Linked DNA regions of Homo sapiens: regions 2, 3 and 4 are each reported to be linked to region 1. Evidence: microRNA targets listed by miRTarBase, many of them from high-throughput screens and not tested one by one. Region 1 holds a microRNA gene; each other region holds the end of a gene's coding sequence.

Region 1 (4,065 bases):
ACAAGAAGTCAGTAGATCTTAAAGCACTAGATCTTAAACCCTGTGATGGGCAATTTCCTTGTCAATTTAGCGAGGCTGTGATACCCATGATTCAACCAAACGCTTGCCTGGGTGCTACTGTGAGGTGCGTTGTACATGTGGTCAGCACTGATGATCACTGGCTGTAAGTCAAAGGTTCTCCTCTGCGAGGTGGGTGGGCCTCATGCAATCGGTTGAAAGGCCTCAAGAGCAGAACCGAGGTTTCCCTGAAGAAGAAGAAATCCTGCCTGGGGACTGCAGTGTCAGCTCCTCCGGGGAGCTTCCGGCCTGCTGGCCTGCCCTCTGGATTTCAGACTTGCCTAGCCAGCCCCCACAATCACGTAAGCCGATTCCTTGAAATAAACTTAATCTATATCTCCTTCTGGTTCTGATTCTCTGGCAGAACTCTGATCCTCTCCCTAAACGGTGCCCGGGACGGGGGAGGAGTTGGCGCTACTTCATTGCTTCCCTTTCACGCAGACATGCTGACTTTTCAACCACTGTCCTTTTCGAATTTTTTCTCTTCCAGGGAAGTGCTGACTCTTTTTCTCCTTGTCAATTAGTCCTTTTGGAATCTGTTACTGGTCTCAGCCTTCTCCTCCATCCTCTCTCTTTCATTATTTTTATTTTCATTTTGTAGAGACAGTTGCTGAAGGTGGTGGTCTGGCTATGTTAACCAGGCTGGTTTTGAACTTCTCGCCTCAAGTGATCCTCCTGTCTTGGCCTCCAAAATTGCTGGGATTACAGGTGTGAGCCATCACCCAATTTTTATTTTTAGAGACGGGGTCTCACCCTGTCACCCAGACTGGCGCAATCACAGCTCCCTGCAGCCTCAACCCCTGGGCTCAAGCGATCCTCCTGCCCTGGCCTCTCCAGTAGCTAGGACTACAGGCACGCATGTCACCATGCCTGGCTAATTTTTAAAATTTTTTTGTAGAGATGGAGTCTTGCTAGTTGCCTGGGCTGGTCTTGAACTCCTGGCCTGAAGCGATCCTCCCACCTCGGCCTCCTGCATCCTTTCTTTCCTCCCCACATTTCCTTCTTATCAACAGGTGCTGGGGAGAGGCAGGACAGGCCTGTCCCCCGAGTCCCCTCCGGATGCCGTGGACCGGCCAGCTGTGAGTGTTTCTTTGGCAGTGTCTTAGCTGGTTGTTGTGAGCAATAGTAAGGAAGCAATCAGCAAGTATACTGCCCTAGAAGTGCTGCACGTTGTGGGGCCCAAGAGGGAAGATGAAGCGAGAGATGCCCAGACCAGTGGGAGACGCCAGGACTTCGGAAGCTCTTCTGCGCCACGGTGGGTGGTGAGGGCGGCTGGGAAAGTGAGCTCCAGGGCCCCAGGAGCAGCCTGCTCGTGGGTGCGGAAGGAAAAAGGCACAGGGGCTTGGTGTGGGCGGCTTTTGGCTGGGAGAAGTTTGCACGTAGGGAGAATAGTAGCCAGTGTTTGCAGAGCACTTACTATGCAGGAAGGCCTGTCCTAAGTATTGTAAGTGTATTACATCATGTACAAGTGTCTGTGATTAACCCCGTCTTGCAGAGAAGGAAACAAAAGTACAAACAGAAAATGTAACTAAGCATGCAATTAATAAAAAGGGACCAGGTTTTGAACGCGAGCAATCTGGCTCAAGAATCTGCGCCCAACCACCGGCTCCTGTTCTTAGAGATGAACGTGGAGTCCTGGAGACTGCTCAACATTGTGACTTGACTGTGAGCGTACGCGCTCCCTGTCCCCAGGAGACAGATTTCCAGTGCAATCATAGAAAGTGCCTGTGTGGGCTTCGGGAGATGTGTCTGCCTTGGGGAGAATTTTCCTTTTCAGCTAGAGCCAGGCCCAGGATGTTGACGTCAGTGAGACGCTGGTGACGTTCTCTGCTCCAGTGGCTGATGAGAAAAGTTCCTCCAAGCCAGCTCAGTTGAGAAGAATTAAGTTCTCTGGGTCCCACTGGCTTCACCTACAGATGCCAACTTTGAGGCCAGTGAACTGTGAGGCCAGCTGGGCTGATTGCCATGGCAACAGGAATTGGACCAAAGTCACCGGAGGATGGAGAGGGAAGACACAGTGGTGGCTTCCCCAGGTCTTGGACCACAAGGCACAGCCGTGGCCTCCAGGAACCCTGAGATAACCCGTTAGTGGGTCCTGCACTCCAACAGAGCTCATGCAATCAGCCTCTGGTCCTCACCCTCCTCCCATTGGTGTCGTTGTGCTCTCTAACATTGACATTGAGCAGTGAGTGCTCCAGATCTTGTTCCACTGATTTTTTCCACTGTTCTCCAGTCTAGCACTTTCTGAAATTCATCCAAGCCTAAGAGGTGACGCCAAACGTAAGTGTCTTACACCTCGGACCCCATGGACTAAGACAAGCCTCTGGGGTCCATGTGGCACCAAGGATGGGGCCTTCTAGTACCTTTCACACAGGCCAGGGACAGCACCTGCTGCGACCCCCACCCCCAGCCTCTGCTGCTTCTCCCGTTGCCCTTCCAGCCACTGCCCTGGGCACCTCCCCTGCTCCCGCCTCCCTGCCTGGGCCCATCTTTCTTTGCACCTCACCAATTGCGGGGCTTCCTAGTGCTGGAGGGGAAGGGAGCCTGCTTCCATTCTCACCACTCTGAAAGAAGACCCTGCAGAGAGGTTTTCTGGAATTTGGAGCCTAACCTTGGCCTTGACACAGTCCAGATGAGAAGGCCGTCCCCCAGTTAAGCCAGCCCTCCCTCCCTCTCAATGCTGGAGAGGAAACCAGGCAGCTGGTTGCTTCAGCAAACCCCCTCCCTATGGGAATTGTCCTTTTCTTCCTCAAATAGACTGGAGTGCAGAGGACTTGCTTCAGAGAGAGCCCCTTTGTAACGCACATTGCACGGGCCGTGCCCCATGCCCACTCTGCCACAAACTCCCCTCAGCTGCCCAGCCCCGTGGAGCCAGGCGTGGGCTGAAGTGGGGCCAATGAAATGCCTGGAATGCCAGCCGCAGTGACAGGCCAGCACTCAGATGCCTCTCGGGAGTTCTGACCGAAGCAGCACTGAGGACTGCTTCAGAGCAGAAGTCTACGCCATTTTCCCCAGTTCTAGGCAGAAGTAAAGAATGTCTCTACCTTCTCCCAACCAGCAATTGATTCAGAGTCCTGAGCTTTTAAATTAAAGGGACCCCTCTGTTGCTTTATGCAGTAGCCAGCTTATTCATTTGAGTTCAGGTGAAATCATTTTCAAGTAACCTCTTCCTATCCAGCTTTACTTTTAGTTATGCTGACATAAAAACAATAAAAATTGTCCTCCTCAGAGTTCACCTGTAAAAGTTCCTGGATAATTAGTAAGGAAACAGAAAGAGCAGATAGTTGTTGCTTCAGATAAAAGTGATGTCTGGGTTGGGCACGGTGGCGCATGCCTGTAATCCCAGCACTTGGGGAGGCCCAGGTGGATGGATCCCTTGAGCTCAGGAGTTTCAGACCAGCCTGGGCAACATCTCTACAAAAAATACAAAAATTAGCCAGGCATAGTGGCAGGACTGTAGTCCCAGCTACTCAGGAGGCTGAGGTCAGGGGATGGCTTGAGCCCAGGAGGCACAGATTGAAGTGAGCTGAGATTGCGCCACTGTATTCCAGCCTAGGTGACAGAGCCAGACCCTGTCTCAAATTAAAAAAAACTCTTTGTGGTCATTTAATTTACTTCTGCATTCTTTTTTTTTTTTTTTTGAAATGGGCAGTGGTACCATCTCAGCTCACTGCAACCTCTGCCTTGGGGGTTCAAGTGATTCTCCTGCCTCAGCCTCCCGAGTAGCTGGGATTACAGGCACCCGCCACCACGCCCAGCTAATTTTTGTATTTTTAGTAGAGACGGGGCTTTGCCATGTTGACCAGGCTGGACTCAAACTCCTGACCTCAGGTGATCCGCCCACCTCGGCCTCCCAAAGCACTGGGATTACAGGAATGAGCCACTGCACTCGGCCTACTTCTGCATTCCTTAGAGTACATCCTAGCTAGGATATATTCACTTGTCTTTAGAGCTAACAGCAGAAGAAAGGTACCTAGATGCTTATCTAGCTCTTTATCTTTCTAGAAA
Region 2 (4,065 bases), not on the chromosome of region 1:
CATGTTTGGGGGCTAAGTTGTTTGTAATTAAATGATTCTTGCTGAGATAACTTGGTTTAAATCCTCTACCATTTACAAGCTATTTGAACTTAGATAAGTCGTTTAAGCTTTTTGAGCCTTTGTAAAATGTAAGAAATGTTAGCTTTGTTGTGAGAATTAGAGATACTACATATAATATGCCTGGAATGCAGCAGGCACTTAATAAATAATAACCATTTTGGTAGTGGTGGGATAGGCGATTGGGCTTAATGTATAATGATGCCAGAGGTTTTATTAAATTGTTGAAACAAATTCATTAGATAAGCATTTTGTGTAATGAGGACTGAGGAGTGGAAACGCAGTTCCACCTAACATATGTGTTCTTCTTTCATTTCTTTCTCTAGTCTTTGAAGCCATCAAATCATGCTACCATCCAGAGTATAGTGAGAGCTGTGGGGGTCGTTCCTGGGATTCCTGAGCCTTGCTGTGTACCAGAAAAGATGTCCTCACTCAGTATTTTATTCTTTGATGAAAATAAGAATGTAGTGCTTAAAGTATACCCTAACATGACAGTAGAGTCTTGCGCTTGCAGATAACCTGGCAAAGAACTCATTTGAATGCTTAATTCAATCATTAGTTTATTTTTATGGACTTCTTCCTGTTTTTTTTTTTTTTTTTTTTGCACTGCCAATGCATTTTGTTTCAAAAGATTATTTCTATAGTCAGAGGGGAATGAGCAAATAGACTGAAGATTGCCACCAAGGAAAAGAACTGTATTTGTTTCTGAATGTAACTTAAAGCAAGATTTTTAGTAAATATGGACATCTATTTCTCTTTTTGTAATCAAACACAACAACTTATCAAACTGTTTTTAGAACTGTTAGAGAACACACTGGTTTATTTTTGTAATGTTCTTTGAAAACAGAATGGAGAAGCAGCAATAGCTTGTCATTTATCTCATTTAATGACTAATGGGAAATAGAGAACAATTTCGCGTTTTGAATTAGGCTTATTGCCTTAGAATCCTGAGAAAGTGCTAAATAATCAACTCTGATGTTTTTCTTAAGTTCTTGAGACTCTTGTTTATCCTTGTTTTTCCTCCACAAGTCATTGTCTAAGTGTAATGGAAAGTTTATGCTGAGCGTTAGTGTGTATGTATGTGCGTACATGCGCCAGGTGCCTGTGCCCTCTGTAGGATGGTTTGCTTAATATGGTTTTATAATTCAGTTTACACAGGATTCTTTATTTTTTTTAATTTTGTATTTTGGCAAACACCATTCAGTTATAAGAACTTTGCCAAATATGATAGAATAATTCAAGAGCATATACAGAGAGTTACCACTTGACCCAGCTATTTAATTGCAAATACAGTTGTTTTCATTTCATTTCCTACCAGAAAAAGGAATCAGAAACCTAGTTTTTGAAAACACAAGTGTAATTCCTCTTTTGTACTTCTTTTTCACAAATGCTTTTATTTATTCTAAATTGAATTTAAAAATCCTTCCTAAAGCCATTAACTCTTTAATTCTCCTGATATGCCTTTACTTCCTATGAAGTTATTGGTAGATGTTGAGGCCCAAAAACTGGTAGAATATTGAAGATCTTCTTAAATGACCAATTTAACCATAACCAAATATTGAATATCATTCTTCAGTCACATCTAAGTCAGGCACTTTTTCACATAGATCAGGGCTTTTGGCTCAGTCACGAAATCTACAAGTTAGCAAAGCTTACAAAACATTATTCGTCAGGTATGGGAATCAAATATAGACACTTGTTTGTCTTTGCTTTCCATTTCTATGTGTCACATACATATATGTGTCCTCTTATAACTTTAGTCTTCAAAATTATTTCAATATCCTTCTTCTCACTATATTTATTTGTGTGATGGAAATGCTTTCAGGCCGTAGATCATTGTTGGTGTTAATCTGTGGTTAATCCTCATTTTAGTTCCGTCTTATCTGATACTTAGAAATATCTCAGCCATTTTGGAGGCTGTGCAGTATCAGAAGACGTGGAGTTTGTTCTGTCTCTGCCTGTAGCTAATTATGGTGGTTCAGTCATTTAATAAATATGTTTTGAGCATCTATTTTGTGAAAGGCACTGTGTTACCTGTGTGTCTTTAGTGTCCTCACTGGTAAAATGAAGAGGCTGGCCATGAGCTGGAAGGGTTAAGTTTATAATTCCAGCTATTTCACACCCGTCTTCCTTGAAGGAATGATAGTGATAGATATAAAAACACTGTAAGTCCCTCTTTTAATAAACTAAATGAAAGAACATCCTATACTTCGCTGTTTGTAAATTAGTATGGCATTCGCTTTGGTTTAAGTGGTATTTTATTGCAAACCCATTAAAAGAATAACTCATGAAAAGAAGCTCTTTGACACCTTGGGGTACACAAATGTTGGTGTGGGTGTGTGTTAATTCTGTGAGTGAGACACACCAGTTCTAAAAAAAATGAGTGAAGTTCTGGTGCCTGAGTTACCATGCTTTCTTCTAGTTCTTACAGTAGCATAAAATTAAAGATTCAAAGTGAGATGGAGGATAAAATTACTTTTTAATACATGTTCTCAAACATTTGAAAATAAAAGTATATGATAGAAGGGGGCCAGAGTGTGGCCACCATCCTGATCGTACTGTTTTTCAATAAAGAAAACTTTTTCATTGGTAGATTTGGTGAAATTCTAAATTTAGGTTTTTTTCTAGAGCTGTATCAACCAAAACTTCTGGCAATTCCCAGTATCACTTCTTAGCCTTCTTATATCCAAATGCCTGTTTATTACCTTTCTTAATTTGAATCAATGCCTAGTTATTACAGATTGCACCCCACAATGGCCAAAAACCCACTACATAATAAAATTTACAGGTACTAACTAGTTAAGATTATATTTTAAGTAGCAATTGATATAAAATTACAACACAATGAAAGAACTTGGGTAATCTCTTAGCAATGGAAATAGGTTTTAACCAGCAGTTTTTCTGGGTGCTTTGTAACTATCATTTTACTAATGAATTGAGGATGTATTATGGTTTAAATTGGAAGAGTTTTATTCCCAAAGAATAAAGCAAGATTATCTTTCAGTAGTAGAGATTGAAGTAAATGTATTAATATTTTAATTAATACAGATTTACTAAGAGTAGTTAGAAAATTTAGTAAGTGCCTGTTTTACAAATTGTTAGGTACTAGTTTCTGTATAATTCCTACACAGAAGCTTTAGAAATCTCCTGATATTAAATTATTAAATTGGCATTCATGAAAAGAGAAGCTACAATTATAAACTCCATTTGCTAAATCATGCATAATACTCTCTCTCTCTCTTCCCCCACAAGTAATCTCTCTACCCCATGCAGTGTGCACACACACACACACACAGTCAGTTACTGAAAAAAATAATTCTTTTTCTTTTTTTTTTTAAATGGAGTTTCACTCTTGTCGCCCAGGCTGGAGTGCAGTGGCGTGATCTCGGCCCACTGCAACCTCCACCTCCCAGGTTCAAGCAGTTCTCCTGCCTCAGCCTCCTGAGTAGCTGGGATTACAGGTGTCCGCCACCATGCCTGGCTAATTTTTTTATTTGATAAAAAGAATTCTTTTTCTCAATAACTGTTCTCTTGAATTCAAATTAAGGGACTGCCAAAGTCAATTAGAATATTTTAAAAATACTTTGTTGTAACCTGTGTAAATAATATACAATTTACAGGATTTGGGATTGTAGAACTTAAACTGGAAGACTGGATTCCTCAGATCTCAGGACTATAACATTCCAGATAAATTTTTACATTCCCTTTGCTGTATATTAACTGATGATCATTTATATGTTAAGATTTTTTACCTTAATATTTCTGAATAAAACTCTTATTGCCCATTTAATATTTTCATAGGCAATCAAATGTGAGTAATACTGCTAAGAGTCTGATTTATTAAAAATATTTGTATAATTCATTCAGTTTAGTTTTTCAGTTTAGTCTTTCTGCTTTCACTTTTCTCTGTGCTAACAAGTAACTAATGTCTGGGCATTGACTTCTTATTGAATCAAAGTTGGGTTAGGCATAGCTATGCACACCTGATGTGTAAGATTAAAGAAGAGA
Region 3 (4,065 bases), not on the chromosome of region 1:
ACATTCAACACAGACGTACTGTGTGCCTCCTGCGTGTGAGGCCTGGTGCTCATGGCGCGTGTCCTTGCATGCAAAATTCTACTCTTCATCTTGACGTTTCTAGACATTCAGCTGTTCCTCAGGAAACGATTTACCTTCCCTCTGCCTTTTCTGTAAAATGCATGGACTGAGGAATTACTAATGCATAACACTTTGTTTGCTGGATACCAAGTAGACGCACTCTTACCATATACAGGGCTGTATCTAGGCAGCCAGTTATTAGAATAAAAACAGAATACTATGTTCATCCGCTCAGATAATCCCTGTGTTTGGCTTCATGTTATGGTTCGAAACTCCTAGTGACATTGGTAAGAGTGAACACGAGAATGAAGCTTCTTTCATGATGAAATGTCCTGAGTGTGTGTCTGTGTGTTCTCAAATTATAGCTCACATGGATAGAGAACGTTTTCTTGCTTCAGCCTCAAGTGGGGATTGGGTTGCAGTGGTGAACCAGGGCCAACACAGCCCGCCCTCTTTGAGGTTGCAGTCTCCTGGGACACACGCCCACTAAACAAACAGCTACACGAATTAATCATGCCACAGGGCAAACTGCAAGAGCACCATCACGTGCGGCAGGTAACCCAGGCGGGTCATTTTCGTGGCGGAAGAAGGTCACACTGGAAGTCACCAGACAGATGGAAGATCCCACTCAAAGTCGCAGAGTGGGGGCGGATGGAGAACCAGGCTGCCAGGGCGCTGGCTGGAGCCGAGCGGTAACAGACCCGTGGGAGAATAACGAAACGAGGCTCCAAGACAGGCGGGAGCCGGATGGTGCATGACCTGAGAGGCCAAGTCAAGGATTTTGAACTCCACGCTAAGAGCAGCCGGAAGCCGTTCGCTGGCGCCAGCTGAGCACATGCGCAGAACCGTGCCCTGAAAGGCACCGTCCCCTGCAGACGGGAGGAGGTGCTCCCAGCACTGCTGCAGACGCTGCCGTTTCCCTTTCAAGGACTCAGCAGAGTGGGCAATCACCTAGGCGCGCCACCAGCGAGCCTGAGACTCTGCTACCAGCGTCCTTGACCGGACTCCCGCTCTCCACCCAGTTTAATTGGCTTGCTTTTGGCCTTGTAAGATTTCTCATCTGCGATGTGCGTATGCAACCACAGCAAGCCTCCCTCAGATGCATTCTGCTGTGGGTCACGTCACAGACACGGCGGTCCATACACACCCGGAAACTGTCGTGTTTGCGTGTGCGTGTATTCACTGTATGGTCCGGCTTAATGCTTTTGCTTATGGGAAGTTTCAAACGTGTACGAAAGAGGAAAGAACACGGAAGTGAGCGCCCCCATGGGCCACTCCCAGCTGCAGCGACCCCCAGCAGTGCTCGTGGGACTCCCCGTGCCACCGTGCCCGCGGCGGGGGGCTCCGAATCAGTCCCAGGCCTCGTATTGTTTCATCCATAAATATTTCAGAATTTTCTCTAAAAGATAAGGTCTCTTTTTAAACTGAACAGTAATAACACATCACATCTAAACTATTTAGCAGGTGCACTTTAAAATCATGTGGATATCCCAGTCAGCGCTTACATGTCTCCAGTGGGTTCATAAAATTTTTAAACTGTTTGAAACAGGAACCAGATCCAGACGCTGCGATGGATTGATATGTCCGTGTCTCTTTGTATCTATGGGTTCCCCCTCACCATTTTCTTGTTTTTTCCTTGCAATTTATTTGGCTACAGAGTTCCCTGGATTCGGCTGCGCAGATGCGTGGGGCGTCGAGGAAGGAGTTTTCAGTCCCGTGTTTCCGTAACTGGTAATGAGACTGAGAGCTGTCATCGGATTCAAGCTCAATGTTCTTAGCAAAACACTTCTCCTCTTTGCTGGTGTTGCTGGCCTGGCATTTAACGTGCCCTTAATGCAAGGAGGAAATGCAAGCGGAGTCGGGTCTGAGGGGAGTGAGCGCCAGTGCCTCCGCGCAGCTCCTGCTACATCGGTCGCCCTCTTTCCATCCTGGGAACCGCTCAGCGCTTTGAGGTACGCGCAAGTTAAAAATGCAATCACTACCATAAGGAACCCGGGCTTAGCGGGGGGCAAAGCGGCAAATGAGGGGTCAGCCCACAGGGAGCCCGTGCGGTCCTGCTGAGCCAGCAGGCGGGACGCGCTTAGAGACGGGGCTGCCCACCGACGGGAAGCGGAGGAGCAGCTTCCGTGACTCCCACGCCCCGTCTGGGGCCATGTTGGCGTCAAACGGCGACAAAATCATGACAGCTGTGACCCACTGGGTACAAAATAACTCACAAGTCTACACTGACATGAATGAATGAATGAATGAATGAATGAATGAATGAATGAGGAACGCTCATTCTTTCTGCGGAAAGAACTAATAAATGCATGGGGGGATGGAATTAGAAAATCGCGGCTGCTTCATGCGCGTGCCTGCTCTTACCAAGTCACCTCATGATGGCCAGCAAGCAGCTTCCTGAGGGAGGAGAGGAACGGGCTGCTTCTCATGGATCCAGGGAAACCAAAGCCTTGAAAAGAGAAACACCAAGGCCACCTCTGCCCTCAGCCTCGCGGGCCGCAGGTGAGTGAGCACACCTCCGCTCTAAGGCAAAGCCAAGTAACTACGCCTTCTGGTTGTCATTCATAAAATTTATTTTGGAAAAATATTTTAAAAAGGAATTTCTTCATTAACAAAACAGTAAAAAACTCAAATAACATTTGCACAATATTCCATAAATACATTTATATACAAAAAAATATAGTCACATAGACCCGAAGTGCCTTTGTACATATTTACCAAAATTTAAATTATAAAAAACGAACATCACAAAATACTCAAGCTTTACAGATATCATGAAAAATATTTTTACAAATCCAAAAAATAACACACATCTTTTCCATCTAGAAAAAGCACATCTTCGTATCAAAAAGGACAATAAAGGCAGTGTTTGTGTTTCTAATTCAAGAAAAGACTGGCTCATAAGAATCCAAAATATACACTCAGGCAGTGCATGCTTCTTATGCGTAATTCAGTTCACCCATTTAAATATATATTCTCTTAAGAGCAACTGTCCATAGTGCAACGGCGACGTCACGGAAGGCAGTGCCGCAGGCGGCCGGGCCGCGACAGGCTGTCGGCAGGCGTCGAGGACCTCAGGAGGAGAACCTGCTCGGTCTGAACTCGGTTTCTCAGCAGCAGTCCACGAGGCCTCCCTCCTCTTCAGCAGCATTCGTTGGGGCATATATCCTTGGAATTTTACTTATTTTAAGAGAAACGGGAGTCTTGCCATCTCACTTCCATTTTACACCTGGGGGGCCACAAGACAAATGGGAAGTTAGCCTGAGACCGATTCCCGTGCTCCAGCTTCAGGTGCTCCCATGCCGAGGAGGAGGGAGCGGCTGCTGCCTGCACTGACCTCAGTTGCTATGACGCACTCATCCTTCTCCTCGGATATGACGTACACCGACTGGTACTTGGTGTCTTTTGAAGTTGAACAGCCCGAGTCCGGCCTTTTTCTTTCAGATGCTTCTCCACTAAAAGGAAAATAGAGAAAATCCACAATGAATGCATGAGAACATTTGGGAAGAGAAACGGAGCAGTGGTTCCAGGAAGACACCCCCCAGGTACCCCCTCCTGATGCCCGGCCCGCAGCACGCACCCCCTGAGTGTGGTCGGGGTCCCCTTCTCCTCCCCTGAGGAGCCCTGGGGCTGGCACTTGGTGTCACGCTTGCTGTGCGCGTCCCTGACGGCGGTGTCGTCACCCTTGAGGTCCTGCACGAGGTTATAGTCCACCGCTGGGTAGCGGGCCTTGAAGCCATTCTTGTCGGCGCTGTGGTCCCCGTGGAAGTCCGCCTTCTTGTTGGTGTTCTTGATCTGCGTGGCCCCGATGATGCTGACTGAGATGTCCTTCTCACGCTGGCAGTTGGCCAGGTTGTTCATGGTCTCCGTCTCCCCCCGGCAGGGGTCGGCTGGGGGCCGGTGCTTCTGCAGCCTCAGCCGGACGCAGACCACCACAGCGGCACAGCCCAGCAGCAGCATGAGGACAAGGATGACCCCGGCGCACACGGCCACCCAGGGGAATGG
Region 4 (4,065 bases), not on the chromosome of region 1:
CTCTGGGGTATTCAGCCCTCACCTTTCTGACTCCTCTCCTGATCTTCTACAGGAGACTGACAAACTGGAAGATGAGAAATCTGGGCTGCAGCGAGAGATTGAGGAGCTGCAGAAGCAGAAGGAGCGCCTAGAGCTGGTGCTGGAAGCCCACCGACCCATCTGCAAAATCCCGGAAGGAGCCAAGGAGGGGGACACAGGCAGTACCAGTGGCACCAGCAGCCCACCAGCCCCCTGCCGCCCTGTACCTTGTATCTCCCTTTCCCCAGGGCCTGTGCTTGAACCTGAGGCACTGCACACCCCCACACTCATGACCACACCCTCCCTAACTCCTTTCACCCCCAGCCTGGTCTTCACCTACCCCAGCACTCCTGAGCCTTGTGCCTCAGCTCATCGCAAGAGTAGCAGCAGCAGCGGAGACCCATCCTCTGACCCCCTTGGCTCTCCAACCCTCCTCGCTTTGTGAGGCGCCTGAGCCCTACTCCCTGCAGATGCCACCCTAGCCAATGTCTCCTCCCCTTCCCCCACCGGTCCAGCTGGCCTGGACAGTATCCCACATCCAACTCCAGCAACTTCTTCTCCATCCCTCTAATGAGACTGACCATATTGTGCTTCACAGTAGAGCCAGCTTGGGGCCACCAAAGCTGCCCACTGTTTCTCTTGAGCTGGCCTCTCTAGCACAATTTGCACTAAATCAGAGACAAAATATTTCCCATTTGTGCCAGAGGAATCCTGGCAGCCCAGAGACTTTGTAGATCCTTAGAGGTCCTCTGGAGCCCTAACCCCTTCCAGATCACTGCCACACTCTCCATCACCCTCTTCCTGTGATCCACCCAACCCTATCTCCTGACAGAAGGTGCCACTTTACCCACCTAGAACACTAACTCACCAGCCCCACTGCCAGCAGCAGCAGGTGATTGGACCAGGCCATTCTGCCGCCCCCTCCTGAACCGCACAGCTCAGGAGGCGCCCTTGGCTTCTGTGATGAGCTGATCTGCGGATCTCAGCTTTGAGAAGCCTTCAGCTCCAGGGAATCCAAGCCTCCACAGCGAGGGCAGCTGCTATTTATTTTCCTAAAGAGAGTATTTTTATACAAACCTACCAAAATGGAATAAAAGGCTTGAAGCTGTGGCCTGAGTGCCTCACTGGACCCAGAGGCCAATGGGAGAGTATTTGGAGCCCTAGGTCCCAGCCTTAGCTCTACAGACTCACTGCATGACCTTGGACAAATTCTTTGATATTTTTGGACTTTGTCTTATCTGACAAGTGGGGCTACATCCGCTCGGCCTCATCTCCGGGACTGAGGGGAGACAGTCCTCTGGGGTAAAAGCGAAGAGGCTTACCGCCCCTCTCCCCGTGGGGGCCCACAGTGCTGCTGCGTGTGCCACGGAGGGGCGCTGTTATGCCCCCTTCCAGCCTCAGAGGAGGCGGCCGAGTGGTTCTAGGCCCCCAGCACCTGCTTCCTGCCCCATTGTCTTGGACAGGAAGGAGCCGGGAAGGGAGCTGGAGCCACTTCAGGGGCTGGATTAAGGCCGGTCCCGGCGCCCGATGGGGGAAGTCTGGTTTACCACTGCCCCGCATCCCACCCCAGGCTCGAAGTAATGGGGGAATCATTAGTTCTGCAGTCCTTCTGGATGGGAATTGTACCCTGTATCAGCACCCCACCCTCGCCCCAACCCCGGCGAGTACCAAACAGACGCTGCCCAGGCCGTGGGCTCCGCTTCCGTCCGGGTTTATTACCCCCAATCCAACCCCCAGCAAGTCCCTCCGCTCCAGCCTTCAGTCCCCCTGCTGCCCTGCCAGCAAGAGCGAGGGGCCCTTCTTGGTGTCAGGATTTCTTAGTCCATGCCAGCGGCCCCTCCTGCGCAGCCAGGACGGCGTCCAGGTCCCGAGGTCCACAGCGGTCCCGGGGCTCGGGGAGCAATCCGGGCGGGCGTCGGCGTGGAGGAAGCAGTGCCTTCAATCATCGGGGGAACAGGCCAGGGGCAACTGATCCGGACTGCCCACGCTGCCAGTGCTGGAGCTTCCATCGCCTAGGTCGCGGGGCCCGCACGGGGGCAAGGCAAGCTCGGGTGCTGGCCCGGCTCCTGATCCCCCGGCGCCGCTGGGGCCGCCGCGGGGGCCCCATTCTTCGCCCAGCGCCAGGCAGAGCTCCTTAAGCGCTAGGTTCTCCCGCAGCAGCTCCTCCTGGCGGCCCTCCAGCTCGGCCAGCTTCTGCCAACAGCCGCCCAGGTCCTCGCGCACGGCCCGGGATGCTTGGGTCCCGAAGAGCTGCCACTGGCGTGCGGCGCGCCGCCCGCGCTGGCGCTCCGAGTCCAGGAAGCAGCAGAGGTCGCGCAGCTCACGGTTCTCTGCCTGCAGACGCCGGTTGAGCTGCTTGAGCTCGCGGATCTCGCCCAGGTGGCCCTGCAGCTGCCGATTCACCTCCTGCATGAGGCGGCCGCGCTGCACCAGTGCCGCCAGGCGCGCCGCCTCCTCCCGCCGCAGGCGCCGCACTAGCTCTTCCTTGCCTAGCGCCGCCATCTCCTCGTCCGTCAGCTCCTCCAGGCCGCCTGCCTCGGCCTCCATGGCTGGTCAGGCCTCTGGAGCATCGCCCGCCCGCCGCCGCGGCCCAGGAGCCCCACGTCGGGCCCGGCGCCACTCAGGCTCGGGCTCCGGCTCCGCACGCGGCAGGCAGTGGCCGAGGCAGCGTAGGCTGCAGCAGCTACCCGGGCTGGGCACGCGGCGGGGCGCGCGCCGGGGCGGGGCCGCATGTCGTTATGGAAGGACAGCCAATCCGGTGAAACGTCCCCGGAAAGGGGCGGGGCCTGAGCTCAGGGGCCGCCCCCCTCGTTCCCCACCCACTCCGGGTGTTACTGATCCTCGATGTCAAGGAACCCGCGCGTCATCGCCCTCCACATCGGTCTCAACCCGAAACTAGGAGCTTCGAACCTCCAAGTACCGGATCGCCCCAAGCTTGAGCCTAGGCCTCTCGGCTCTTCTGAGAAACAAGATTCAGGCGTCCGCCCCTGACTCCTGCCCATCCCCCACAGAAGTCAGATGGACCGCTCTCCAGTCCCTCTTTACCTTTGATCAAATTCGGAAGTCTCGGCCCACTAAGGATCGCTCCTGGTTCCTCGGAACCCTGAGTCCAAACGTCCTAGCTCACCAATAGACTACCCTCCCTCCCAGGGAGCGTTTCCTGCCTGGGGGGAGGAACATACAGGATTCGTTTGTTCAATAAACGTTTTTTATGTGCAAGGCCCATGCAGAAATAAATTTAACCAAAATACCGATTCCATCCTCAAGGAGGTCGCAGTCTGTCCGGGAAGTCAAGCTGTGTTAAGCAAGAAATAAATCCGGGAGGAGTATGGTCTGAGGGTCCTTAAGAGGGTTCCCAAAAGAGATGCTATCCAAGAGGCTCTGGTAGATCCATAGGACTTTGCCAAGTAAAGAGCTATTTCAGGGAGAGAGAATAACATAGTGAAAGACACTGGTGCCCGAAAGAGCCTAGCTGCTTTAGGAACAATGAGGATAGCTTGGTTTTTGAAAAGCAGATGTGTCGAGAAAATGCTAAGAGAGAGAGAGCGAGGCTTCAAAGGTAGGTAAAAGCCAGATTCTTAAGAACTTCCAGTACCAGGTTGGAGCATTTCCAAAGGCCACTAAGGATGTTAAGCAAGAGAGTAACATTTGTAAGGATGTTAAGCAAGGGAGTAACATTTTAAAATATGCCTTTAACTGGCCAAGATGGTGAAACCCCGTTTCTACTAAAAATACAAAAATTAGCCGGGCGTGGTGGGAGGAGCCTGTAATCTCAGCTACTCGGGAGGCTGAGGCAGAGAACTGCTTGAACCCGGGAGGCGGAGGTTGCAGTGAGCCGAGATCGCGCCACTGCACTCCAGCCTGGGCGACAGAGCGAGACGCTGTCTCGAAAAAAAAAATGTATTTAAAAAGATTGGGCTGATCTGTGTGGGCCGGACCCTGCGGGGAGGGGACATAAACAGGGAGATTAGTAACGGTGTCAAAGAGCAAGAGCAAGGAGAGCTAAGCAGAAAGACGGCTGGGGCAGCATCAGTGGGGGTGGAGAGG

What was found. The annotated mature microRNA hsa-miR-34a-5p reads UGGCAGUGUCUUAGCUGGUUGU and lies in region 1 at 1,150-1,171, shown strand. An mRNA with a match to its seed (bases 2 to 7 or 8) in the 3' UTR can be bound and repressed. Matches are read on the target gene's strand: a 7mer-m8 pairs with bases 2 to 8, a 7mer-A1 pairs with bases 2 to 7 and ends in A, and an 8mer does both.
Region 2: miRTarBase lists BMP3 as a target of hsa-miR-34a-5p. Seed matches in the 3' UTR shown: 8mer at 662-669 and 7mer-A1 at 3,607-3,613.
Region 3: the mRNA of DLL1 is a reported target of hsa-miR-34a-5p. Seed matches in the 3' UTR shown: 7mer-m8 at 3,081-3,087, 7mer-m8 at 2,985-2,991 and 7mer-m8 at 2,922-2,928.
Region 4: the mRNA of FOSL1 is a reported target of hsa-miR-34a-5p. Seed matches in the 3' UTR shown: 8mer at 792-799 and 8mer at 893-900.

What each region holds. Positions count from the first base shown.
Region 1 is chr1:9,148,841-9,152,905 of GRCh38, reverse strand. It overlaps MIR34A (microRNA 34a), which reads left to right and starts at 1,129; the gene lies at 1,129-1,238. MIR34AHG (MIR34A host gene) reads left to right here. Exons shown (of 2, transcript NR_132742.1): 2 at 1,071-4,065. RefSeq lists a silencer at 1,084-1,320.
Region 2 is chr4:81,052,962-81,057,026 of GRCh38, forward strand. It overlaps BMP3 (bone morphogenetic protein 3), which reads left to right. Exons shown (of 3, transcript NM_001201.5): 3 at 384-4,065. The coding sequence ends at 575. Among named protein-coding and RNA genes, the nearest start is that of BMP3, 24 kb to the left of the region's middle.
Region 3 is chr6:170,279,591-170,283,655 of GRCh38, forward strand. It overlaps DLL1 (delta like canonical Notch ligand 1), which reads right to left. Exons shown (of 11, transcript NM_005618.4): 9 at 3,641-4,065; 10 at 3,398-3,515; 11 at 2,616-3,289. The coding sequence ends at 3,284. Among named protein-coding and RNA genes, the nearest start is that of LINC01624, 9.1 kb to the left of the region's middle. RefSeq lists an enhancer at 2,554-3,753.
Region 4 is chr11:65,889,284-65,893,348 of GRCh38, reverse strand. FOSL1 (FOS like 1, AP-1 transcription factor subunit) reads left to right here. Exons shown (of 4, transcript NM_005438.5): 4 at 53-1,300. The coding sequence ends at 463. CCDC85B (coiled-coil domain containing 85B) reads right to left here and starts at 2,676. Exons shown (of 1, transcript NM_006848.3): 1 at 1,714-2,676. The coding sequence starts at 2,565. The coding sequence ends at 1,957. RefSeq lists enhancers at 1,016-1,175, 1,216-1,265 and a silencer at 2,406-2,885.